2 separate regions of the Homo sapiens genome follow, and region 2 is linked to region 1. Evidence: fine-mapped expression QTL. Tissue or cell type: thyroid. Region 1 holds a variant in brackets; the other region holds the start of a gene. All regions are shown on one strand. Distances are from middle to middle.

Region 1 (8,334 bases):
GCCATAGCTATTGGCTCACCCTGTGTTTTGGGTAGGAATGAAGCTAGGTGACAATTTCCAGAGAAAGGCAAATAGATGAGATCTGGGTGCCCACTCCAATATGTTTTTAGTTCTACCTAAAGTTTAAGTAAAAATAATGTAGTTATGAAAATATTTACAAGTAGGTAAAATAAATGCCTTAACGTATGACTAAAGATGAATAAGGTTGATCAGGAAGAGGTTCTTGGAAGCAAGAAGGTTTATGAATGGAAACTTAAAGATTTGATGAGTCGCTGTCTATTCCAGGTAGAGGGAAGAAAATGCACAGAGACTCAGAGAGTCATTTTTTTGGGGAGAGCAACCACTTTGCTGGAGTAGCCCAAAACATTAAAGTCAGAGAATAAAGAGCTTTAAAGTTAATTAGATTAGAGGTAAGATAATTTGGCAAGGGCTTGTAGGTGGGAGGCTACCCAGGGGAGCAGCATGTTATAATGGAAAAAGCATTTTAATAGCGTCCAGGAAGCCTGGATTCTGCCATGAATTAGCAGTTTCTGTTTGGGTAATCAAGTTCCCTTGGCTTCAGTGTAGTCACCTGTAAAAGAAATCTATAATTCCACCACGGGCAATTGCATTTTATTTGTTTATTTAAAAAGTGTTCATTGACCAACTACTATGTGCCAGGCAGAACTCTAAGCGCTAAAAATTCAGCAATGAAACAAAACAAACTGCTTTCCCTTGTGCAGCTTTATTGATACCTAATCAGTAAAGTAGGAATCAGAACAATGATTAATTCAGATACATGACGATCATAAGTCTTGCCTTATTTTCTTTTTCCTGCATTTCCTGTATACACTTCCTTTCCAGAGCCTCCTCTTGGGGCTACATGATTCTTTAGACAGCTCTCTCCCTCTGCTCTATCAGATAGTAGTTTCATCATCAGAAAATATTTGCCAAAGTCTTAAATTGGAGTTCTTGAAGAGTCCCCCCAAAATAGTGCCACTCTTTTTCTTCCCCCTCAAGTTCTGAACTAATTAAAAAATAAGGGGAAAACATTTTGTTTCCAAGATGGCGGATTGGAGACACTGTTAGCCTGCCTCTCCCCTTGGAAAGACAAAATAGAGTGTAGGGATTTATGCTGTGAACTTTTTTCAAAGAAGCAACACAAGAACTTAACAAAACAACGGAAAGAAACTACAGACCCTTTGAAAGAAGCAGAAGGCGGCAGCCTACACCATGAATGAGCCAGGCAGAAAACTGTGAGTCCCTAGAGCATGAGGTGGAAGACGCTGCCTCCATGATATTCACTCCTACTGTGGGGCCTGGCAATCCAGGCCATGGGGTGAGGCCTTAACCCTGCCCAGTGCTGATTTTGTAAGCGGTAGGGAGTGTATGAGAAGGAGCAGCATTGGGATGTGCTTTTTGTGCATTCCCAGACTCCAGCAGGGACAGAAGGAAGCCATTCATGATCCTACCTAATAGGGGACCTTGCAGAAATCAGCCAGCTAACTCAGGTGGTGGTCACAGGTTGAGAGAAGCTCCCAACTGAGATTTGTGATATAATTTTGAGTGGTGATGAACCCCCTTGTCCAGAACTGAGGCACAAGCAGTGTGTGTGCTTTAGCCACACGTGCAGGAGCTGATTGTGCTGTTTCACAGGCAGACCAGGAGAAGTGTAGTTGGAAAACCTCAGTTTCTGTCTGGATAGGGAAGGTTTATAGCCTGGGGCAGTTCTGGGTTCAGAGTGCAGGCTAACTCCAACCCAGCTAGCTGCTGCTGGTGGAACACTGCATGTGTGAGACCTGCCTTGCCAAGCGCATGGGAGCTGGATAGGGCTTACTGCTGCCTGCTCCTCCCCACTCCTTGTGCAGATTCTTCTGTGCAGCAGAGGCAGCTTTGGTCCACCTGGATTATTACCCCAGTAGCCAGGGAACCGCCCTCCAATCTCCACTGGGGCCGCTGCTTGCACCTGTACATGGGAAAGTAGGATACAGCCTTGCCTGGCCCAGCGCCACCTGATTTTGTCCCTCTACCTACCCTGGTAGCTTAGTATAAAGGACAGGTAATTTTGAGAGCTCCATGGTGCCACCCATTGTCTGAGACACCAGAATACCTCCCCTGGATAACATAAGGCAAGCACAAATCCCACCAGTACCACTGCAACTGGCATTCTTTTGCAAGCACGCACCACCTCCTAGCTGGAGGCCAACCAATACATGCCATTACAACATTTGCAGGTACAGTAACACAGTGCCTAGGAACGAGTACACTTTTGCACAACCTTAGCTATTACCCAAGCCTGCATCACCCTGCCTAACCAGGAAGGCTTCACTCTGTCTACATGACCAGTACGTTACCAGTACACCTGGCATTTGAGAAGAACAACATACTAAGGTGATTTATAAGGAAGGAAATCTCACAGAGTCTACATCATTCCCATTCCAACACCATCAGAGTTGTTGCTGGTACCTGCTGCTGGAAGGCTAAAAGAGAGGTCACATCACTGGATCTTTTGTGGACATCCCCTAGCACCAGCCTGAAGTGTGGCAGTCCCACTGCACAGCTAGACCCAGAGAAGCAGCAGGATTCACAGTAGTCTAGCTCTCAGGGATTCCTACTTCTAAGGGAAGGGAGAATGCACCACATTAAGGGAGCATACTGTGGGATAACAGAATCCAGTCGGTAGGACTTGAGTCCTGGAACTTTCTGCTTACAAAATGTTTCAGCAGAGACACAAGTGGAATGCTGGGCTCAGTGGGGAAAGTCTGCAGCTCTACCCCAACATTCAGGCAGCCCCAAGGCTCATGAAGCATCTTGGAAAAGGAGACTTCTTCTTCCTCTCACCCACCACTGCAGACACAGCGGAGGCTTCGCCCATGGGAGCTCAGCATGGGTGCAGCTGTAGACAGCCTTTCTGTAACACTTCAGGGTGACTACATCCCCATAAGAGGAGTGCCATCCAGGTTTAAGTTTGCATGAGGGGTACAGTCACAAGACCCATCTATGTGGAACATCAGCATTCCTGCAGATAAAAAGAAGTGCTTGTTTGATTTGAATGGCTAGAACACTAGGTAAGAAGTGTGACTGACAGGTGGATCACCTTCCTGCTGGCCTAGTAGGAGAACTAAAGTGGCTCCCATCCTTTCCCCAAAAAGGTCTCAACACATGTCACTGAGAGCTTCCCCAGCTGCCTCTGGCAAGGCTGGGTCCTCTGCCCACCATTGGGTGTTATGTTTACCCACCTGCTTTAGCCACAGCTACTTTTTACCTGTGGAAACTTCCTACTGGCCTGAAGCCTAAACTATTCAACCCAGTGAGGAAATAAATGGGGAAAAATAAATAAATAAGTGCACACCACTGGGTAATGAGATAAGCTTCATGAGACCTCTGCCATTTCAGCCTCACAGGAGACAGTGAAGCCACTCACACACAGAGCACATTGTTACTACAACTAGCACCTGAGAATGTGATCACACAGAGACTCTCTATAGCCAAGGAACTCATACAGAATCTTCACCACTGAAAGCACCCAGAGCCAAATTAGGTTACAATAAACTATAAATATTAAAGCCACATCCTTAAGGGGGGAAAAAAACCTGAAATTTTTTTTAAAGCACAGTCAAATGAAAAAAAATTTCAAAATGATTAGAAGAAATAGTCTATCCAAATGAGAAGAAACTAGAAAAATAATTCTGGCAATATGAAAAAATACGGTTCTATAACTCTCCTCAAAAGATCAGCAATGAATCCAAACCAAGATGAAAGCTTTGAAATACTAGATAAAAAATTCAAAAGGT[T/C]GATTATTAAGTTATTAAAGGAGATGGAAAATAAAGGCAAAAACCAACGTAAAGAAATTAAAAGAATTCAGGGTATGAATGAAAAATGTTCTAAAGAGATAGATATTTTAAAGAAAAACCAATCAGAACTTCTGGAAATGAAAAATACAATTAGAAAATTACAAAATGCAGTTGAGTTTTAACAATAGACTAGACCAAGTAGAAGAAATAATTTTAAAGCTTGAAGACAAGGCTTTTGAATAAACCCTATCAGACAGCAGAAAGAAGAATTTAAAGAAGGAAACAAAGTCTTCAAGACATACAGGATTATGTGAAATGGCCAAACCTAAGAATCACTGGTGTTCCAGAAGGAGAAGGAAAAGCAAAAAGTTTGGAAAATGTATTTGAAGGAATAATTGAGGAAATCTTCCCTTGCCTTGCTAGAGATTTAGACATCTAAATATAAGAAGCTCAAAGAACTACTGAGAGAGTTATGAAGAAGGACATCACCAAGGCATATAGTCATCAGATTATCTAATGTTGACATGAAAGAAAAAATTCTGAGAGCAGTGAGACAAAAAAGCATCAGGTAACCTATAAAGGGAAATCTATCAGACGGACAGCAGACTTCTTAGCAGGAATTTTATAAGCTGTAAAGGATTGGGCTCCTATCTTTAGTCTCCTTAAAGAGAATAACTCTCAGCCAAGAATTTTGTATCCAGCAAAACTAAGTTTCATAAATGAAGGAGAAATAAAGTCTTTCTCAGATGAGCAAATACTGAGAGAATTTGTCACTGTCAGACTAGTCTTACAAAAAAAAGTGCTAAAAAGAGTTCTAAATCTTGAAGAAAAAAAAAAAGGTTCACATGCACTAGAGTATAAACTCTTGATAGCCTAAAATTTACAGGGCCTATAAAACAATAACAAATGAAGAAAACAAAGTAACTAGATAAAAAGCAACATGATTTTGGGAACCGTACCTCACATCTCAATATTAACAGCATTAAATGTAAGTAGTCTAAACGCTCCGCTTAAAAGATACAGATTGGCAGAATGGATTTTAAAAATCACAAACTTAATATGTGCTCTCTTCAAGAGACACACCTAATACATAAGAATTCTTACAGATTCAAGGTAAATGAGTAAAAAAACATTCTGTGCAAATGGAAATAAAAGTGAGCAGGAGTTGCTATTCTTACATCAAATAAAACAGACTTTAAAACAACAATGGTAAAAAAAGACAAAAATGGACATTACATACTGATAAAAGGATCAATTATACAAGAAGATATAATGATAAAAGGATCAATTAAACAATGCAATAACAGTGGGGGACTTCAACACTCTACTGATGGCACTAGACAGATCATCAAGGGGGAAAGTCAACATGGAGACACTGGACTTAACCTGCACTCTGGGACAAATAGACCAAACAGATATTTACAGAACATTCTACCCAAGAACTGCAGAATATACATTATTCTCATCAGCACGTGGAACACTCTCTAAGGTAGGCCAGATGATAGGCCACAAAACAAGGTCAGTAAATTTTAAAAAATCAAAATTATGTTAAGTATCTTCTCAGTCCACAGCAGACTAAAACTAGAAATCAGTTCTAAAGGAAACCCTCAAAACTATACAAACATATGGAAATTAAACAGTATGCTCCTAGGTGATTTTGGGGTATGAAATCAAGACGGAAATTTAAAAATCCTCCAAAATGAATCGTAACAGTGACACAAGTTATCAAAACCTCATAACCTGTAGTTATAAATGTCTACATCGAAAAGTCTGAAGGATCACAAATTAACAACCTAATGTCATACCTCAAGGAACTAGAGAAACAAAAACAATCCAAACCCAAAAGTAGCAGGAGGAAGGAAATAGCAAAGATCACAGAAGAACTAAATGAAACTGAAACAAAAAAATACAAAAGATCAATGAAATGAAACATTGGTTTTTTGAAAAAATAAACAAAATTGATAGATTATTAACTAGATTAACCCAGTAGAAAGAAGATGTAAATAAGCTCAATTAGAAACAAAAATGGAAACATTACAACTAAAACCATAGAAATGCAAAAGATCCTTTGAGACAAATATGAACATCTTTAGGCACACACTAGAAAATCTAGAAGAAATGAATACATTTCTGGAAACATACAATTCTCATAGCTTGAATAATCAAGGAAAAATAAAATCCTGAGTAGGTCAATAACAAGCAGTGAGACTGAATCAGTAATAAAAAATTTGCCAACAACAAAAAAAAGCCCAGGGCCAGATGGATTAACAGCCAAATTCTACCAAACATACAAAGAAGAATTGGCACCAATCCTACTGAAATGAATCCAAAAGATTGAGAAAGAGAGAATCCTCCTAATTCATTCTATGAAGCCAGTATCACACTGATACCAAAGCCAGGAAAGAACATAACAAAAACGGAAAACTACAGACCAATATCCCTGATGACCATGGATGCAAAAACCCTCAACAAAATACTAGCACAGTGAATCCAACAGCACATCAAAGAGATAATTCACCATGATCAAGTGGATTTCATCTTAGGAATGCAGGGATGGTTCAATATACACTATACAATAAATATGGTCCCACCACATAAACAGAATTAAAAACAAAACCCATCTGGTTATGTCAATAGGCACAGAAAAAGCATTCAATAAAATCCAGCATCACTTTATGATAAAAACCCTCAAAACACTAGGCATAGAAGGAACATGCCTCAAAATAACAAAAGCCATATTTGACAAACCCACAGCCAACATCATACTGAATGAAGAAGAGTTGAAAGCCTTCCTCTTAAGAAATGGAAGGAGACAAGGATGCCCACTTTAACCACTTCTGTTCAACATAGTACTGAAAGTCCTAGCCAGAGCAGTCAGGCAAAAGAAATAAACGGCATCCAAACTGGAAAACAGGAAGTCAAACTGTCTCTGTTTGGTGATGATATGATCATATACCTAGAAAACCCTAGACTCCTCCAAACGACTCCTAAATTTGATAAATGAATGCAGTAAAGTCTCAGGCTACAAAATCAATATATGCAAATCAGTAGCATTGCTATACACCAACAATGACAAAGCAGATAATCAAATTGAGAATTCAATCTTTTTCATATTAGATACAAACAAATAAACAAAAAATCTAGGAATATACTTAACTAAGGAGATGAAAGTTCTCTACAAGAAAAACTACAAAATACTGCTGAGTTAAATCACGGATGACACAAGCAAATGGAAATACATCCCATGCTCATGGATTGGAAGAATCAACACTGTGAAAATGACCATACTGCCCAAAGCAATCTACAGATTCAATGCAATTCCTATCAAAATAACAACAAGATTTTTCACAAAACTAGAAAAACAATACTAAAATTCATATGGAACCGAAAAGAGCCTGAATAGCCAAAGCAATCCTAAGTGAAAAGAACAAATCTGGAAGCATCACTTTACCCAACTTTAAATTATACTACAAGGCTATATAGTAACCAAAACAGCATGGTACTGATATAAGAGCAGCTACATAGACCAATGGAACAGAATAGGGAACTCAGAAATAAAGCCAAATACTTAAAACCAGCTGATCTTTGACAAAGCACACAAAAATAGAAATTGAGGAAAGTACACTCTATTCAACAAATGATTCTGGGAAAACTGGATAGCCATATGTAGAAGAATGAAACCTGATGCCTATCTCTCATCATATACAAAATCAACTCAAGATGGATAAAGACTTAAGTCTAAGACCTGAAACTATAAAAATTCTAGAAGAAAACCTAGGAAAAACTCTTCTAGACATTGGCCTATGCAAATAATTTAGGACTAAGACCCCAAAATCAAATGCAACAATAATCAAAATAAACAATTGGGGCTTAATTAAGCTAAAAACCTTCTGCACAGCAAAACAAATAGTCATCAGCGTAAATAGACAACCCACAACCTGGGAGAAAATATTTGCAAACTATGTATCTGACAAAGGACTAATATCCAGAATCTACAGTGAACTCAATCAAATCAGCAGGAAAAAAACAAATAATCCCATTAAAAGTGGGAAATGACATGAATAGACATTTCTAGAAGATATACAAATGGCTAACAAACATATAAAAAATGCTCAACGTCACTAATCTACAGAGAAATGCAAATTAAAACGACAATGGGATAGCACCTTACCCCAGCCAGAAAGGCCATTGCTAAAAAGTCAAAAATAATAGATGTTGGTGTGGATGTGGTGAAAATGAATACTTATACACTGCTGGTAGGAATGTAAATTAGTACAACCTCAGTGGAAAACAGCATGGAGATTTCCCAAAGAATTAAAAGTAGATCTACCATTCTATCCAGCTATCTCACTACTTGGATATCTACCCAAAGAAAAAGAAGTCAATCATTATATTAAAAAAGACACCCATACATGTATGTTTATCATAGCACAATTCACAATTGCAAAGGTATGGAACCAACCTAAGTGCACATTAACTGATGAGTGGATAAAGAAAATATATATATACACTATGGAATACTGTTCGGACATAAAAAAGAATGAAATAATGTCTTTTGCAG
Region 2 (8,334 bases), 29 kb before region 1:
TCCGTGCAAAGTAGTTCCTTGATTTACACCTGTCTTTTGAGACAAGCACGCTCAACAGCTAGGCTACCACAGAGTGGTGTGCATACTCAGCTCTTAGATTCGCTGACTGTTCATTGTGAAGCCAGGCCCTTGATGAAACTACACCTATCCCTACTGACTGCAACCTATCATCTCGGCAGCATTCAACTACCAGAATCCAAATGGAACCAAACATTAAGAGAAAAATTTTAAAGGACTAAAAGTAATATCACGCCCTTCCCAGATCCACTTGCCAACTTTGTATTTTGCATTGAGATACCCTTAAAGGCTTGAACAGCCAAAAAAAAAAAAAAAAAAAAAAATGGATGTCTTGTCAAGATTTCTTGACTTTTGACTTTTTGTTTCTAGCAGCTTCTCAAAGGGTGGAGCCAATGAAATCCACAAGCTCCAAGATAAAGTGGTAAGAAAGGAGACAGAATGACTCCTTGACATTCCAGTAAATGTCCTTAAGTTCAATGGTTGGTTTTCGCAGAAATCACACACGGCAGAAGATGAACAGTTCAGCTGGGGTTGAGACTTCTGCTGTGTTCCCCATTTTGAATGCAGCGAATCCTATTCAAGGCATGGGTAGATCCTAGAATCTAAAACCCTTAAAGTGTCAAAGTCATATTCCTCCAGTCTCCCCCGCCCTGCATATTCCTGATAACACAGCTAACACTTCTTGTACCAGGCACCATCTTAATTAAGCACTCTACATGTGTTAACTCACTTAATCTTCACAATAACCCTTGGAGTCCAGCCCATCACTATGCCCATCTCACAGATTAGGAAGATAGAGCACAGGTCAGCAGCTGGTAAGCGGCAGAGCCGGGCAGTCCAGCTCTAACTCAGCTTCACTGTAATACACAACACAGAGGCCTTTTTGTGAGTTTATTTGTGTGCCCAGAATCAGAACAGCAGGATGTGGTGCCATGTATGAAATTTCAGAATGGAAGCCAGCAAATTCCTGCAGCAACAGAAACGCTGAACTGATGGTGCTTGACACAGGGCAGAAGCCTCCTCCTGGTCAACTGTAGCTAAGCTTAGGGGAGGCCAGGTGCACACACCCCAGCCAGGAAGGACAGCAAGGAACCGACTGTCACACTGACCCAGGTGTGGACATTGCTTACCCACGTATTCACCAGACACTTAGTCCCATTTCCCCTTGCACTTAGTCATCCACTTCGTCTCTACAATTTCCCCTTCCAAACAAACACTAAGAACAGCACAAAAAGCACAGCCTCTCACATGTGCAAGGAGGTTCATGGCACCTCTGTGATGAAATTCTCACATTATTTCCATTTTTATGTTGTTTTGTTTTACTTTTTATAGCAAACGTGGATTTCTAACATTAAAATTAACTAGTTCATCTTGAAGGAAAGACACTGGCTTCCTTGTGCCTCCAAGAATACTTGGGGGACCCAGCCGACAACTATCTGTGGTCAGGCCGTTGACGATGTGGCCATTCTGCCACTGCTGAATGGTACTGGTGTAAATCACCTGTCCCCCTCACCCTCTAATTCCCAACCCCTAACCCCCGCTCCAAGGCTTTCTCAGACCCCAACTCAAGCTCAGCACAGTACACCCAAGACACCCAGAGGCACTCCAGCCTCAACTCCCAGCTCCGCCTCTAGTGAGCGGTGTGACTCTGTGCTGTCACCTCACCTCCTTGGGACTCAGTTTCCTCATCTGTGAAACGAGGACTGGTTCAGTCTGTGACTTCTAATGTGTGGGTATCTGACATAATCTACTGTGAAGCGAAGGAGCCTGGTGGAGCCAGGGTAGAAGAAATAGAAATCAGGAAATTAACTAACTAGGGCTTTCCTACTTTCACTCCCTGACAAGGAAGTAATCATTGCTGATACTGATTCAAACTCAGAGGACTTTCCCATACTATATCAAGGGCAGCAAATCTCCGGTTATTCAAGATCCAACAAAGGAATAGCTCAGCTAACACAGCCCCTTTCTTAAAAGAGAGAAATGATAAGCAACAAGCCCACACCTGCTATTTATTCTGAACACCAATTGCTAAAAGGTCAGAGAATCCGTTGTTTTCCATGATACCATAGATTTGGCCTGATTCTCACACCTTCACACTGTTCTACAATACAACTGTCTTTTGAATAACTCTGAGACCTAAACAAAATACAATTTTAAAAGGCCTTAGATACAGGCTAAATCATAAAAATAGTAGGCGGGCACAGTGGTTCTACATGTAATCCCAACACTTTGGGAGGTGGACATGGGTGGATTGCTGGAGCTCAGGAGTTCAAGACCTGCTTGGGCAACATGGCAAAACTCCGTCTCTACATAAAGTATAAAAATTAGCCAGGCGTGGTGGCCCGCACCTATAGTCCCACCTACTTGGGAGGTTGAGGTGGGGGGATCTCTTGAGTTGGAGAGTTTGAGGCTACAGTGAGCCGAGATCGCACCACTGCACCACAGCCTGGGTGACAGAAGGAGACCCTGTCTCAAAAATTAAAAACATTAGGTCGGTGCAAAAGTTATTGTGTTTTACATGGCCAAAAAAAAAGTAACTGCGGTTTTTTTTACGTAAAAACCGCAATTACTTTTGCACCGACCTAATAAAATAAAAAATAAATAAAAGTATTGTGGTATGGACAGTGTAACTATAACATTAACAATACAGTTTGAATTCTAATTCTTTTAAAACAGCCAGCTCTGTGGTCCAACTTTGTTTTCTTATTGAAACTTTATCTTATTCATCTACCAGCAAAAGGGCTGTTTTTGAGGATGAAACAAATTACCAGAGATGACAGCAGTTTGTAAATATATACTATTCTTCAGAAATTTGAGATTACTGTACACACAGATTTAGTATACATAGAGAATTCCACTCATATGCCAAATCTATGCCCCTGTATGCTTTCCACTTATTTATTCACTATTTTAAAATAATCGTACCCAAGTCGTTGTTTCTATTAAACCAGCAATCAAACGAAAGCCTTTGGAGCGATGAGGAGCATCTGTTTGAAAGGGGGAGGTGCCACGCTTGCTGCTTCTCTAAGCTCCCTGGGAAGGGAGAGACAACTCAGAAAACCTACAAACTGTAGCTCCTTCCGGTGCCCGCGTGACCCCCGAGTCCAGGAGCGGGCAGGGGCGCCGCTTGGCTGAGCGCACTGGGCACCCGGTCTGGGTCTGGGCCAGCCCCGCCGCTGCAGCCCGAGGGAGGCGGCGCTGCACTGGCCTCCGCGCGCTCCCAGACCCCACGTGGGGGCGCCCCTGGGTGCCGGTGCGCGGGGAACGTGCTGCGGGGGTGCTGCGCCAGCTGCCACCGTTTCCCGGGACTTCCCTCCTGGAAGATTTCCATGCGCAAGTCGAGGACGTGCTCCTGCTAGGAGTCTAGAAACTCTAGGCCAGCCCGGACCCTCCCGGGGCCTGCACTCCCCGCGGGTGGAAGCACGCGCCGCGTGTCCCTGCCGGATTCCAGAACTTCCCCGAAGGTCCTCAGCCCCGGCAGACCCTCTCCCTCGAAGTTCCCCCGCCACCCCCTGCAAGCCCCCAGGCCCCGGGGACCGCCGCTCACCTAGCCAGCGGCTCCAGACACCGGACACCGGACACCGGACACCGGACACCCGCCGCGGCCGCTCTCGCCGCCCAACCCCGCACCTGAGCCCGCCCCGGGCGCCGCGAAGGGGTGGAGGCGGGGGTGAGGCTTCCGCCCGCCCGCTCTGGCCCCTGCGCCTCCCATGCACCCATGCAACCTCCGAGGAAATTCCCTTCCCCCTACTCCCACCCCACGCACACTCTCCCCAAAGCCTCGCCCCACCCCCAGCACCTACCAGTGCTGGGCGCCCCTGGGCAGGGTGGCTCGATCACCCGCCACATCCACTTGGCCGCCAGAAGCCGTCGGGGAAGGGAGGGAGGGAAAGGCAGAGGCGTCCCAAGCGGCGCAGGCGGGCTGAGCAAATACTCCGGCCCGGACGCAAAACAGCTCTTGTAGCCGTCCCGCCCGCGCCGCCCCGCCGCGCCCACATGCCGGGGTGACTGGCGGGGCGCAATCGCGGCCCCACCCGGGCGCCTGGAGGCTCTCCAGGGCCACTCGTCGGCGAGGCTGCGTGGCCTGCGCATCTCGGGCCGCCTGGCCCGCGCGCTGTCCCCGAGCTGCGGTAGTCCGGGGTAGGCTTGTCCTCTCCTCTCTTAGTTCATGAGACAGGGATCTGCAGTCTGTGATCTCTTGGGGACTGCAGGACTTAGATTAAATCTGCAGATCTGGGCCTTTCCACGTTTCAGAGCTCGGGGTTCCTTGCTAGGTGTAGGGTAGGAGGGTGCGCAGGCCCCACTTGTTCACTCTGCTTGGGTGCTGCAGGCCAAGGCGACTCTGGAGCTTTTTTTTTTTTTCTTTTGTTGACATTAAGTAAATGATCAAACTCTTTGGCACTTGTCGGTACACGTGTGGCTTTGTAGGACAAGATGAAGGAAGGAAAAGGCTGGAAGGAAGGAGACCGCAGTCAACACAGACAGGTGGAGAAAATGAAAGAAAACTGGGGGAAAAGTTAAGATGCTGAAAGGAGTCTTGAGGATTGCAACAAGAACAGGTTGGCTTGGTGCCTGAAGACGTCAGGGAGGAGCTGGCAGTCCACAGTTAGAGGAAATCTTGGAGGAAAATTGAGCAGAAGCACAGTGGAAAGGCATTTCCACTGGAGGGCATTTTCCATCCTAGAGGAGCATGTGGAAGAAAACCGCCTGCTTTGGTGAACCCCAGATTTTGTGTATTGGGAGAGATGTAATAAACAGTAAACACCAGTAGTCCTCTCCACGGACTACCTGACCTCTTTAGGAGCCTGACCTGCTGGATTCAAACACAAAATGGCATTTCCCTGCCTCTCCAAACTGCAGAAGCTGTGCAGAGTTACATCAAGCCTCGGGGCAGGCGGCATTGTCAGGAAATAAGACCCAGCTATTTAGGAACAATTCCAGGAATCCCATCAGGGAGGAATTTCTGGTGTAAGGCTTAGTTCCTACTGCAGTTTAAATGATAGCATATGGGGTGCTTTAGGCTGGAGTGGGATTGGCCCCTGGAAAGCTGCTATGACGAGGTCAGAATGAATCCTAGCCCTGCATGGATGCATCAGTTGAACCATACAGGGTGGTTTATCAGTTAGGAAAAATCCCACAGGACACTGTGACAGCCTACCTTCCTCACACCCAGTCTCTCTCCAGGTCCTGGCAAGTCCTTCCTTATAACAGCTTTATCACTGTGCTACTAACCTCTGTACCTCACTTTCCTCCTCTAGATAAAGAGTGTCTGCCTCGGTAAGTTGTCAAGAGGGTTAAATGAGATGCTACATGCAAAGAGATTAGAAGAGCTCTTGGCATGTGGTGAGTGTTCAAACACATTCACTCAGATCAGTTCATATCACATTAAGGTACTGGAATTCCACATTCCTGCCATCTCACCCTAGGCTGTGGGTTCTGCCCACCATGCCACCTACCTTCCAAGTCATTCCCAGGGATCCTATCCTCCTGGTATTCACATCCTTGCATAGCTCCCTGCCACTTTGTAAAGGTTGGTATGCTTGACCAATAGAACCCGGCAGAAGTGATGATGGTCTGCCACTTCAGAGATTAGGTAAGGAAACACCTTGGTGCTTCTATCTTGAAATAATATTGACAGCCCAAAGGAACGCACGCTGTACACAAATAATGCAAACAACTCAGAACCCAGACTCTCTTCCCTTTTCTCTCATCTGCCCATTTCCATCCTTCTTGTCTCGTGGCTCTTTCCTATATTTGCCATGAACTCTTCTTCTTCTCTTATTTTTATAGTTTCTTCTCCATCCTCTTCACTTGGTCTCCCCTCTCCTCTATCACCTTCTCTTTTTGTTTCCTTTCTGCTGACTCCTGGAATTTCCTCTTTTAATTGGCATGGTCTGGAAGAGAAAAGGTAGATGTTTTTCCCTTAATTTCAAAAGTAGACAATTCGAATTTTTTTTTTTTTTTTTTTTTTTGAGATGGAGTTTCACTCTTTTTGCCCAGGCTTGGAGTGCAGTGATGCAATCTTGGTTCACTGCAACCTCGGCCTCCTGAGTTCAAGTGATTCTCCTGCCTCAGCCTCCCAAGTAGCTAGGATTATAGGCACCTGTCACCACAACTGGCTAACTTTGTATTTTGTTTTTGTTTTTTTTTTTTGTTTGTTTGTTTTTTAGTAGAGACTAAGTTTGACCATGTTGGCCAGGCTGGTCTCAAACTCCTTACCTCAGGTGATCTGCCTACCTTGGCCCCCCAAAGTGCTGGGTTACATGCGTGAGCCACTGCGCCTGGCCAAGAATGTTTTATAATGCTCTAAAAAAAAATCAGGTGGCCTATTACTTGTGGGGCCTTCAGTTACTTTTTCCCTCCCTTTGGGCCAGTACTCTCAGAGGAAAACATTTCCCCCCTCCATGATCTAGGATGTGTTATAGGGACGAATGTGGGGAAGACTGCTGACAGGGGCTGGCCACTGACGAGTCACAGACATGGAACATGGTAGCACCAACATGTGTTCAGGAATGCTCTGCTGCAGCGTTCACTGCCAGAACTTAAAGAGAAAGCTAAACATCTATTTATTGGTTACTAATATTTTTAATTTGTCATTTATTCGTGGTAATGAATACCATGAAACAAATAGCCTACATTTTAATGGATGTGTTCCTTGGCCTTCCTTTTGGACTGTTGCTTAGGAGCCCTGCTGCCCAGGGCTGTCAAGTAAAATGGCATAGCATGGCCCTTGTACAACTGTGGGTGGGCAGGGGACAAGCACAGAGATCACTATGTGTAAGGCGCCCCCTGGAGTTGTGCAACACTGCCAGCCCTATTGTTGCCAGAAAGACAGGATAAGCCACTTTGCACTTTTTCTGAGATAAAGATTAATCCTTATTTCAGTTCTACAGACAATGAAAATTGCCTTCATATGTTTTCTTTATAAAATAGAGTATTTTTCCTGTCATATTTTATGATCAGCATCAGAAACCTCAACCACTTTTTAACTGTTAGAGCAGGTATACACTTGTACCACAGTGAATGTAACGTACAAATGAAAGAAAAATACAAAAACATTTAAACTTTACTAAAAACTGATCAAATCTCAAAATAAATCTTAATCAGTTCATCAATCATTAAAAATATATTTAGGGTCTGCTGTGTTTTCAGCTCTCTGTGAGCAGTTAGATTTGATTTTGAACTATTTTCATTTGTGTATGGTTCTGTATGGGCCTTTATTTCTTCATCTTCATAAACACCAAGATAAATTATTGGTCTTTACATTCATCTTTGAATCAATTACATTACTGTAATATTTAATGTTTTTCCAAGAGTTACCTTTATGGAGTTCTTTCTCTAAAATCCACACTCTGAGTTGCTAATTAGACATTTCTGGTCTCTCATATGTGTGTGTGTATATATATATATACATATATATATGTGTGTGTGTGTGTGTGTATGTGTATGTGTATATATGTATGTGTGTGTATGTATGTATGTGTGTATATATATGTTTTAGATGGAGTCTCGCTCTGTCTCCAGGCTGGAGTGTGGTGGCACGATCTTGGCTCACTGCAACCTCCACCTACCGGGTTCAAGTGATTCTCCTGCCTTAGCCTCCAGAGTAGCTGAGACTACAGGTGTGTGCCACCACGCCTGGCTAATTTTTTGTATTTTTAGCAGAGGCAGGATTTCTCCATGTTGGTCAGGCTGGTCTCAATCTCCTGACCTCGTGATCTGCATGCCTCAGCCTCCCAAAGTGCTGGGATTACAGGTGTAAGCCACCATGCCCGGTGGTTTCTTATATTTCTGTAATACAGTGACAAGCAGCCCGTGTCTCAGAGAACTGCTCACCTCAAACTTATGGGTGGAATTGGACAGTCGCTATCCCAACGATATGGGACATCTGCAGTGGCCTATGGTAACCAGTGCTTTTTTATGGGTCAAAGCTCTGAGAAAGGAGCAGAAGCAAACTTTTTCTAATATTCTGGTGTTCCTTGGATCTTCCCAGGCAGTTTTGATAAGGTCTACTAGACTCATAAAATCAAATCTCATCTCTTTTTTGGACCAGATTCAGAAATGCGTTTCCATTTCCTAGCTTCTCTCTTACAGGCAATCTTTGCAAAAAGTGCACAAATCCCTTTTAGTTTTATAAGGAATTTTCTGCAAATGAGTACAGCAGTTCTCAAGTACATATTAAAATAACCCAGGGAGATTTTCTTTGTAACATTTGCCTCTTTGTCTACTCCTCCAAGGAGTTATTTGATTGGGATGAGATGGAGCGCAGATATCAGCATTTTTTCAAAGCATCCAAGGGGATACTAATGTGTGGCC

The links. PIP is the estimated chance that this variant, and not a neighbour inherited with it, causes the effect.
Region 2: it holds the start of SH2D4A, and the variant in region 1 is fine-mapped to the expression of SH2D4A in thyroid (GTEx, PIP 0.96).

Annotation. Positions count from the first base shown.
Region 1 is chr8:19,280,629-19,288,962 of GRCh38, reverse strand. No RefSeq gene overlaps it. Among named protein-coding and RNA genes, the nearest start is that of SH2D4A, 29 kb to the left of the region's middle. The variant T/C (reference allele first, on the strand shown) is at 3,774.
Region 2 is chr8:19,309,311-19,317,644 of GRCh38, reverse strand. SH2D4A (SH2 domain containing 4A) reads right to left here and starts at 3,952. Exons shown (of 10, transcript NM_022071.4): 1 at 3,822-3,952. It overlaps LOC105379306 (a long non-coding RNA gene), which reads right to left. Exons shown (of 4, transcript XR_949550.3): 4 at 5,821-5,912.